Homo sapiens: one gene and its partner. The protein of the gene in region 2 purifies or fractionates together with the protein of the main gene of each other region. This does not show direct contact. Each region holds a gene or a part of one and is shown on either strand. Other genes may lie near its edges.

Region 1 (4,326 bases), about 26 Mb from region 2:
TCCAGGAGCCAGTCGATGGGCTTGTCCCGGTAGAACATGAGAATGAACTCTACAATCAGGCTCAGGTCCAGCGACTTGAACATCTTACCTGGTGGGGAGGGGCCTGAGTGGGCAGTGCTGCTCTGCCTACTTCCTTTCTCCCTGCAGCGGCCCCCGAGTCCCACAGCAAACCCAGGGGCAGGCTTCAGGCAGGTGTGGGCATAACGGGGCAGGGAGGCAGACAGGTGATGAGGGCAGACATGTCTGATGCACAGGCAATGAGAACAGGCCAGGTGGGGCTGTAGCACGCACACCAGGCAGGGCCCACCTGGGCAAAGGCTCACAGTGGACACAGTGGGACTGGGAGAGAGGATGGCAGAGGCAGGTGGGACTGAAAGGCACCGTCAGGTAAGGGGAGGGGCACACCAATGAAGCCCAGCTGGGAGAACTCCAGGATCATCCAGTCCTCTGAAGGCTGCTGCAGTGCAAAGTTCTTCATGGTGCTCAGGTAGTTGGGCTTGGCCACGATGTCATCCTCCAGCTGCGAGGTGAGCAGAGAGGGGCTGGGGCTGAGGAAGGGCACCCAGATGGACCAGACCCATCGCAGGGCAGGGCGGCGCAGGGCAGGGCAGGGCAACGCAGGGCTTGGGGCTGACCTGCACGTAGTAGATGCCTTTGGACTGCGCGTACATCATGAGGAAGCAGTAATCGAGGTTCTGTTTGGTCCTCCACCTGTGGGCCGGGGCGGGGCCTCAGAAGTTCAGACCCCTCCACCTCCATTGTGGCTCCGCAGAGAAGCCGCTGGGTGGGCAGCTTCTGTCCCCCCACCCCCATGCACGGGTCCTCCCATGGAGAATTCAGGGCACTGCAGGGAAACACCCTGGACTCAAACACCAGTAGATGGGTTCTCAGCACAGGCAGGCGGGTTGCTGAGGGTATGGGGGAGTAACTAGTACCTGACTCTCTCCTTGGGGTCCCCAAAGGACTCTCGGAGGCGGGAGAAGTCAGGGTAGAAGTGGGGGGAGGGTGAGATGACCTCCAGGAGCCCAGAATGGATCTCCGTGGGGAACCTGGGGGACGGGAAGGCCTAGTCCGTATGCAGCCTCCAGGGGCTGAGAGGGGCCGAGCCCACCAGACTGTGGCCCTTTCTTGAGGCTCACCCAGTGCCAGCCCCCCACCACCCCCTACACCCAGCCAACTGAGGTAGCAGAGCTCCAGAGGGGCTGGGCCACTTCTGCACACCCACCCCTCCCCCACCAGGTCCCTGCCTCCCCACGAGATAGGAAAGGCACTATCTCATGGGGAGGCAGGAACCTGCCAGCACAACACCCCGCACCGAGCTCTCCCGCCACCAGCTCTCTGGGGTCGCCAGTACTCACAAGGCCTTGATGTTCTCTGTCACTGCCGAAGTGTACTGTGAGTCAGTCTGTGGGGAGACCAAGCACCCTCCCTTAGCCCTGCTGCTGCCCCAAAAGGCCTGGAAGGGCTTGGAGAAGGGGCACAGGCTTCAGATGCCCCCCACGTGGAGGGAGTGAGCCTGCTGTGCTGAGGGCGGAGTAAGGGGGCCCCCAGAGACGGCCCTTTCCCTTTGGGACTCGCATGGCCAAGGACTAGGGGGTGGCGGGGGCGATGGGTAGGGGTAGAGGGTGCCAGAAAGCCCTTTCAACTTTCTATCTCGGAGCATTTGCGAATGAAACTAGCAACTGAACTTCCGACAGCTTTCTCCTCGGAATGGTTCCTGCTGTCAGTTCTGCACCGCGGGGGCTCCTCTGAATGTCCCCCAACCCCGCGTCCCGGCTCACTCGCCTCGGCGATCAGCACCACGATGACCGAGTCCTCCTTCTCCTGCGGGCTCAGCTCGGAGATGAGCGAGTGCAGAGTGTCAGTCAGGTACGAGTGCACCTCGCGCCGCACGCTCGGGATGCCCATCACCACCGACACTATGGGGGACGGAGGCCCGACGCTGGAAAGGGTGCGGGGGCCACCCGTCCCCCCACCCCGTGCTCCTCCCTGTCTGCGCCCATACCTCCGGTGCGGCCCTGGCCCACGCGCACCGCGGGCTGCAGACTGCTCTCCTTGGCCAGCAGGTGTGGCAGGTGATGGAAGACGGTGGGCAGGTGCAGCACGTGCCGGTGTGAGCCGTTCCACGGCTTCAATCGGGGGTCCTCTGGGTGGGTCGGGAAGGATCGGGACTGAGACCAGGGAACCTACAACCAGCCCGCCCCCGCCTTTTCCCCCTCCCGCCCCAGACCTCACCTGTTAGGCGGCCCCAGGTGCGATTGCCGTCTCCGTCTCGCAGCGCCTGCCTTTCTGACACGGCCCTCTTGATCTCGTCCAGCACCAGGTTGAGCTCCTTGGAGCGCTTGAGGCTCTCCTGCTCAGCTGCGTGCAACCGATCGCGCAGCGCCAGGAACTCCCGCTGGTAAACGTCCACAACGTCGCCTGCAGGTGGTAGGCAAGCCGTCACGAGGGGGCGGTCTAGAGCCACCCTACGGGCCCCTCCAGTGTGCCAGCGCACACATCTGGGTGTCCACCTCTGCAATAGCTCATTGACATCTGTTCTTGTGCCTGCCACACGTGACATAGCTGGGGTCACTCTAAAATTACACTGACACTAATGCTCATGGGGAGAAAACCAGGGGAATTAGCCCTCTTCCAGTACTCTCCCCCACCGGGGGTTATTTTATCCTCTGAGAAGGCATCTGAAGTGGAAATACGATTTCCAGACCTAGGTAGGTGGATCCTAAGCAAGGGCTGGAACAGCCTCAGACTGAATCCGCTCCATCCGTTGGCCTCCAAAGCCCACTCTTGCTTTTTGCAGCACACGCTCCCTCCAGCGGGTGGGCTACCCAAGGTCCTGGTGCTAGCTCTTCACTGTCCTTGTAGCGGTCGCTGGTTGCTCACCCTGCACTGGATTCTTAGCCTCACGATGGCCCCGGGGGGTGGCTGCTGCAGTTCCAGGAGCCCACCTCACTTCATTGCTCAGGTGAGCAAATGAGGTTGAGAAACCGGCCCTGGGGCTGCTCAAGGACAGTCAACAGCAGCGAGGGGACTAGCTCTGAACGCCCTGGTGCCTGTGTCTCTGGAGACCTGTGCTGCGCCTGGGGCACCCTGAAGGGTCCGCATGCCACCCCAGGGGGCCCCTGTCAGAACCTCCAGCTGGGCCCAGGCATGAGGGCTGTAGGTGGATGGGGCAGCACAGAGGTGGGGCTGCCCGACAGTAGAGAGGCACCACCAGTCTGGCAGGGACCAGTGAGCAAGAATGAGATCAACAACCTCCTGGTGGCTCGGTGCCCACAGTCCACGCAGCAGGACGCTCCAGGCCTCTGCCAGGCGAGTCTCTGAAAACCTATGTGGCCTACAAGGCCTTCTGTTTCCAAGTCTCCAAGTTTAAGAAGCCTGACCGAACTCCCTCTACACTCAGGCAGCTCTTCCATTCCTTGATCCTTGGTGGCTTCACAGACCCCAGAGTTGCGTGGGATGGCCTCACCCCACCAGCAGCCCTGTGCATGATCAAGGTCATGATCAGGCAAAGTTCAGTCACCTCAGGGCACACCCCTTTCCGAAACGGGCAGGAGGTCGAAGTGCCAAGTGACCAGGGAAGAGGAAGGGGTGGACCTGGGCAGGAGGGAAAGGTTTAAGGAGCAGGGAGCCAGGTAGATCTTCCCTGAGGCATCTCTTACCCAAGAAGCCAGCCCCCACCCTCCACACCCTGCCTCTCTGGGGCTAAAGGCTGAGGCAAAGCGGAGCCTCTGGACAGCCCCTGGCGGGAGGGAAAGGGGAGTCAGATTACTGGCTCTGCCAGGCTCCACGCTGGGCTCAGGGGCTCGGTTACCCTGGAAACCTAACCCCTTGAATGCAGAGCTGGCTATCCCCAGGGCTCACCCATTGCTGGGTGACACCAGGTGTAGGCAGCACTCGCCCACAGGGATGGGACTGGAGGTGCAGAGGCCTAGAGAGCCATCAGGAATGGGTTCAGAGCCACCTGCACCTGCAGGTGCGCCTCCCTCCTGCCTAGATGCCAGTCCCCGCTTGCCTACTTACAGCCACTGCCCACCCCCACCCCCGAGCCCCACCCTGGCTTTCTCTGTCCCACACGACTGCCTCAGATGGACAGGCTGGGTGGGCAGTGGTGGGTGATGCTGCCTGAATCACCCTGGCAACAGCCTGCGCCTTACCCTCGCTTCCTTCCTAGGGGCCTCCCCTCTCCCCCGGGTCCTGTTTACCAGGAGATAAAGGGCCCCACGGGCTCCCGCCCACACCAACCCTTCTGTCATTTCCCTACACACTGCAGGCCCTGGCCCTGGGCAGCCTCCCCCGCCTGCCAGCTCCTCCACCCGCCTTGCC
Region 2 (5,359 bases):
GTCCTACCCTAGTGCAAACTCTCCTTTAGAATAGCTGTAGCCCATTCTAAAATAGTGCTTGACATTCTGCCTCTGCTTGGAGAAAGACCTCGTATTTCATTTGCAATAGATGCCAAAGACATCCTGATTTTCATTTCTGTAGACCCAGATGGGTAGAGAAGGTCAAGGTTAACTGCCAGTTTGGCCTGAGCTTTCAAAGTAAATTACTCACTTGTGCAAGAGGGTATTGATAGAGTAAGGCAGACTTTTGGGCAGGGAGAGAGAGGGGAGCAACAGCTGGGTGCTGCTCAGAGCCCCTAACTGAAATGGATAGACAGGCTCATCTGGGAAGATCTAGTTTTTGTTCATTTCTTTTTCTCTGGAATAGCATGAAGAGGAGGAGGAAGAAGTGGTGAAGGGGGTTTGGGGGTTTGGGGGGAATACCAACTGATTATTCTTGCTTTAAAGAAAATCTCTTTGCTTCATGGGAGCAGCAGAATGGAGCTGTTTCCCCAATGATAAGCTCTTCTAGGTGCTACAGGATTCAGCATTCATCTGCTGCCTTTCAAGAACGCCCTGCCAAATTTCCACACAGCCCCTTTTTGTTTCACTCTCCCACAGATGCAGAGCACTGGGCTTGGCCCCCAGTCCGTTGTTTGAATGTCAGCTGGCCTTGAGGAAAGAGGCTGACTTCTCAGAGTGATGGTGTTCCATCCCTCATCCCAGTGTACTGGAACATACATGTAACATGCCAGGCTGCTATCTGGGAAATCTGGCATCTTGAGCATACAGAGCTTTTTCAACAGGGCTGACCAGTTCTGAGCTCAGCCTGTCATTCTTGTAATTGTTGAGAATCATCTTTGAGCATCTCGTTGATCCTTCTGGTAGAAATAACTGCAGAGGCTCTGGAGGGAAGTCTGACAGGACTTTATCCAAATGAAAAATGTGTTCCATATGGGTTTGAAAGAAGATTCTTTGAGAGTAACATATCCACTACTTGAGTAGTCCTCTAACTCCTTGATTTCTCCACTGGATTAAAGAACGGAGTTTCAAATTTATAGTGTTTATCATCTGCTAGAATGAAAGTCTACATAACTCATGCCAGCTCATCCTGGGAGTACCTCTGGAGCTGGGTGGGATAGCTGATTTATAAAGGACACATAATGCTTCTAGGATTTCAGCAGTCATCTGGTCAGACAGTTGGCTTCTTGGGAAGCTGCAAAACCAAGCAAGAAATGCCAGCCTTGAAGACATCTTCCTTTTAATTTGTGGGTCCCTCTCATTCCAAGCCCCAATCTGTTTAACATCTTGGTTTAATTCAACAGTCTGTTTCATATTCCAGGTTTGGGACAGGTTATTAAAAGCTCAAGTTAGAAACTCAGTGCAGTCTCTCCTCATTTCTGAGCCATAATCTCTTGTTGAAAAATGACTTCACTGGATAAATAGCATATGTGGAATAGAAATTGGTGGAATAATGGAATACCGGTGACTTTAATTTTCAAGTATCAGGATTTCTTTCTCATTGTGTTAGAGCTGAACTTTATTCTTAGAACATCCAGAAATCAATGTTTTTTTCTCTTTTTTCAGTCTTCCTGGTGGCAGAAGCCTTGCCCATCAGAAAGTTAAGTATAGAAATGTAGCCTTGGAACGATTTCCTTAATTTTCCACAGAAGGGCTAGTATCCTTTAGCTTGCTAATCACTCCTCTGTCTGCATGCCCAGGTGAAATCTGATGCCACTAGGGAAGGGTTGTTGATTTGCCAGAACAAATCCGGCTCCCTACATTCTTTCTGTCATTCTTGGCTTGCTGTCTACCAAGGAGTCCAGCTGAGGAAGGCCTGGGAACAGAGACCTGGCTTTTAGTCCTTTCTCCTGCCCTAAACTCACTGTGTGTCCTCAGGAAAGAGGTTTAACCTCTCTGGGCCTTGGATTCCTCATCTGCTAAGTGAGGCTTAGATTCAGAAGGGAAAAGGCAAATGCATATTGTAACGATGCTTCCCCTCCCATGGCCAGGGCAGACATTGCTAATCAACCTTTTCATTACTAATACCAGACTTGGGCTCAGACTGTTTCTCAGCAGGGCTACTCAAGTAGAGTTAACGACATATGGAAACTCATTAGCAATGTAGGGAATAGATACTGTGTTAGGGCTTTTCCAACTCTTACATCCTGAGGTTCTGTGAGTATGCTTGGAAACACATCTGAATAGTGATAGTATATTTAAACAGGCCTCTGTATCTAACTTGTAATGAGGCCACAACTTAAGGGTATGTTCATATTTGAATGTCTTTTCTCAGGCTGTAGTCTAAGGATGTTCAGCCTTTGATCTGTTGGTTCCAGTGACACGGTAACAGATAACGGAATCAGGAATGAAAAGCAAAAGCCCATTTAAAAGATAACCATCTAGCTTGCTAATTGTACCTTGTCCACAGTCAGCTCTTACACAGAGATGGCATCAGGATCTCCTCACTGAATCAAAAGCACCTTGAGGCAAACCTGGCAGCTACAAGTAAGCCCCATGGCAGCTAAATGCTCCTGACGGTGTTTGCAGAGGTTTCGTGTTTTACATATATCTGACCCTCTGCATCCCATATATGTGTCAGAACTGGTAAGGGAAGGCCTTGAATAAGAGTCTTGTTTCTCCAGAGAACCTTTCTCCTCATGCGCAGTGGAGTGGGGAAAGGAGGTAGCGCATATACACCTGAATTCCCGCAGCAAGAAGTGTATCATGGCCTCCCTGCTGGAAATGTCTTAAGGTAGGAACACATCCTCCTCTAGCACAAAGCACAAGATTTGGCTCTTGGAAGACAGGATGTGTTTGCTGAATGATTGAAATATATCAGAGCAGGCAGGGGGCTGCAGAAGTCATCTAGTCCAATCTCCTCAATTTGTAGGTATGAAAACTGAGGCCGAGAAAAAGGGAAACAAATTAAACAAGTTCCCATAGGGAGGAACGCAGATCAGAATCCATTCTCCAAGTTCTTGTTCTATTTCACCATGAGAAATTTTTTCCCTCCATATACTAATATTTGATCCTTCTCTACCATTATTTCTTTCAGGAGCCAAGATTATCACCCCAAATTTTGGAGGCCACTGCTTAATGAGACCAATTATCTGCTGGAACCTATCTGGCTATTTTTTTGTAGATCTATTTTTGTACATTTTCTTTCCAACATTTTATAGTGTTTTGTTTTTGTTTTTGTTTTTTTTTGAAACGGAGTTTTGCTCTTGTTGCCCAGGCTGGAGTGCAATGGCGTGATCTCGGCCCATCGCAACCTCCACCTCCCAGGTTCAAGTGATTCTCCTGCCTCAGCCTTCCCAAGTAGCTGGGATTATAGGCATGCGCCACCAAGCCTGGCTAATTTTGTATTTTTAGTAGAGATGGGGTTTTTCCGTGTGGGTCAGGCTGGTCTCGAACTCCCGACCTCAGGTGATCTGCCCACCTCAGCCTCCCAAAGTGCTGGGATTACAGGCGTGAGCCACCATACCCAGCCTCATTTTATAGTTTTAAAAGCAACTAAAATGGATTAAAATTTAAGGTGGCAAAGGGACAAGAGTAGAGGAATTAAAGGCTGGGAAGTACATGGCACCATTACTGCTATCCCTGACAGACAGAGAGAACTTGAGCCTAAGAACCACCTCAGATTCTCTATCAGTTGCAAGTAACAAAACAAATTGAGCCATGTGGGCTGAAATGAGTAAGGGAATATATTGGCTCCTGTGACTGTAGTTGGCTTCAGGTATGGTGTGATCTAGAGGTTTGTGGCATTGTCAGGGCTCGGTCTCCTTTCCTCTGGTTTCTGTTGGTTCTGACTTTCTCTGTGTGTTGGCTTTGTTCTGTTTTGAGGCTCCATGGCAGCAAAAAATGGTAATAGCTCTTTCAGACCTCAGATCCACACCTAGATCCTAGAGGAGAGGGTCTGTCTCCTCTGGTAGCTTCTACAAAAGACAGAGAACATCTTTTCTATAAGCTCTAGCAAGATCTTAGGTCTTACCGGTCTACTTTGGATCTAATGTGCTGTCTGAACCATTCGCAGATTTCAGGAGGAGAAGCTGTATTGATTGACTTAACGTACCCTAGAGCTAGGAGTGGAGTCAGGTTACCCAGATCTAAGAAGAGCAGTTCCCCAGAGAAGACTCTGGGTGCTGCTTTTGGGAAGAGGAGAAAGATATCTAGAGAAGAAGCCCACAAATATCCACTCCAGAGTCCTGCTGACACAGTGTTCCAGGCAGTAATCACTCCTTGGGGATGAGATTTGGTCCTGGAGAGAAAACCCCTTTGCCACCCTGGACCCATTTTTGGGCACCGAACCTGCAGTCTGGAGGTCTGTGTTCTCATTCCAGCACTGCCACCCCTTGGCTGAGATGATTAGCTGTGTGGACCTCAGTTTGTTGCTGAGGACGGCTTGGGTGCAAATGCTTGCCAACACACAGTGGAGGGTGGAGATAAAGAGCAATTGAAAGCTGTCTTTATTGAATCTTACTTACCCGTTCTGCCGCTGCCTTCCTTTCCCCTCACAGACGTCCCGAGAACTGTCTCCCCTGCCCCCATACACACTAAAAGTCAATTCATTGAAAATTTCTCTCAAGCTGAAAAAGAACTTCTGTCTCTGCAGCTTCCACGTTTTTTCTGCCTGGCCCTCTTAGCTGGAGGAGGTGGAGTGTTCATACTTTGGAAGCTAGAGGAAGCTAAACAATTCTGCTTGCTGTGGTGGGTGGGTGTGTATTTATGCGTGTGTAGCTTTCTCTCCATGTGTCTCTCTTCTCTCCCTCTTATCTTTGAATGGTTCCTGTTTGCTGCCCTCTGCTGAGTGTAGATAGGAGAGAAAAGAAAAAAGCAGGCCTATTTTTTTCCTTCCCTATGGCTTTAAGAGAATGCTGAGCTTCAGATGTTAAATTGTCTTCAGTTTTCTCAGGTGATGAAAGCCACAGCATAAAATGATACTGATCCAAAGAATGATGATGATATGGCTGATAATGAGGTTGATAATGTTAATAGTAGTAATAGCAGTTACCATTTATTTAGCACTTACTCTGCTAGGTCCTTTACCTGTACATCTGTTAAATATTGTTGTAACCAGGTAGGAAAGAAGGAGGGAACTGAAGCTCGAAGAGGGGCAGGTGCTTGCCCAAGGATGCACAGCCTGTAGTGGTGGAGCTGGTATTTGAACTCTGACCTAGTGCTGAGTCCTTAACCACCATACTTCCTCCATATCTGAGCAGGACAAAGGACCTGTCTTCCACCCCTGCCCGTTAAGCCCTTCCTGCAAGCCTGGACATCTGAGCAGGTGAGAGGGACCATTGCCCTAAGACAGCCTCTTCAGTAGCTGAAGTGGAGCACATAAGGTCATGTGGTGGTGGTGTGTGCTGGAAGAGAAACC

The links. The genes of interacting proteins can lie anywhere in the genome.
Region 1: the proteins of GALNT10 (region 2) and MGAT4B purify together in Homo sapiens (affinity purification with mass spectrometry; one large-scale study listed by BioGRID and IntAct). This does not show direct contact.

What each region holds. Positions count from the first base shown.
Region 1 is NC_000005.10:179,799,549-179,803,874, forward strand, and holds part of MGAT4B (alpha-1,3-mannosyl-glycoprotein 4-beta-N-acetylglucosaminyltransferase B), read right to left. Parts: exon of another isoform or gene 2,564-4,326; coding exon of another isoform or gene 2,422-2,563; coding exon 2,236-2,421; intron 2,147-2,235; coding exon 2,006-2,146; intron 1,920-2,005; coding exon 1,786-1,919; intron 1,406-1,785; coding exon 1,359-1,405; intron 1,050-1,358; coding exon 936-1,049; intron 712-935; coding exon 636-711; intron 521-635; coding exon 406-520; intron 89-405; coding exon 1-88. UniProt on the Homo sapiens protein: Glycosyltransferase that catalyzes the transfer of GlcNAc from UDP-GlcNAc to the GlcNAcbeta1-2Manalpha1-3 arm of the core structure of N-linked glycans through a beta1-4 linkage and participates in the production of tri- and tetra-antennary N-linked sugar chains.
Region 2 is NC_000005.10:154,192,751-154,198,109, forward strand, and holds part of GALNT10 (polypeptide N-acetylgalactosaminyltransferase 10), read left to right. Parts: intron 1-5,359. UniProt on the Homo sapiens protein: Catalyzes the initial reaction in O-linked oligosaccharide biosynthesis, the transfer of an N-acetyl-D-galactosamine residue to a serine or threonine residue on the protein receptor. Has activity toward Muc5Ac and EA2 peptide substrates.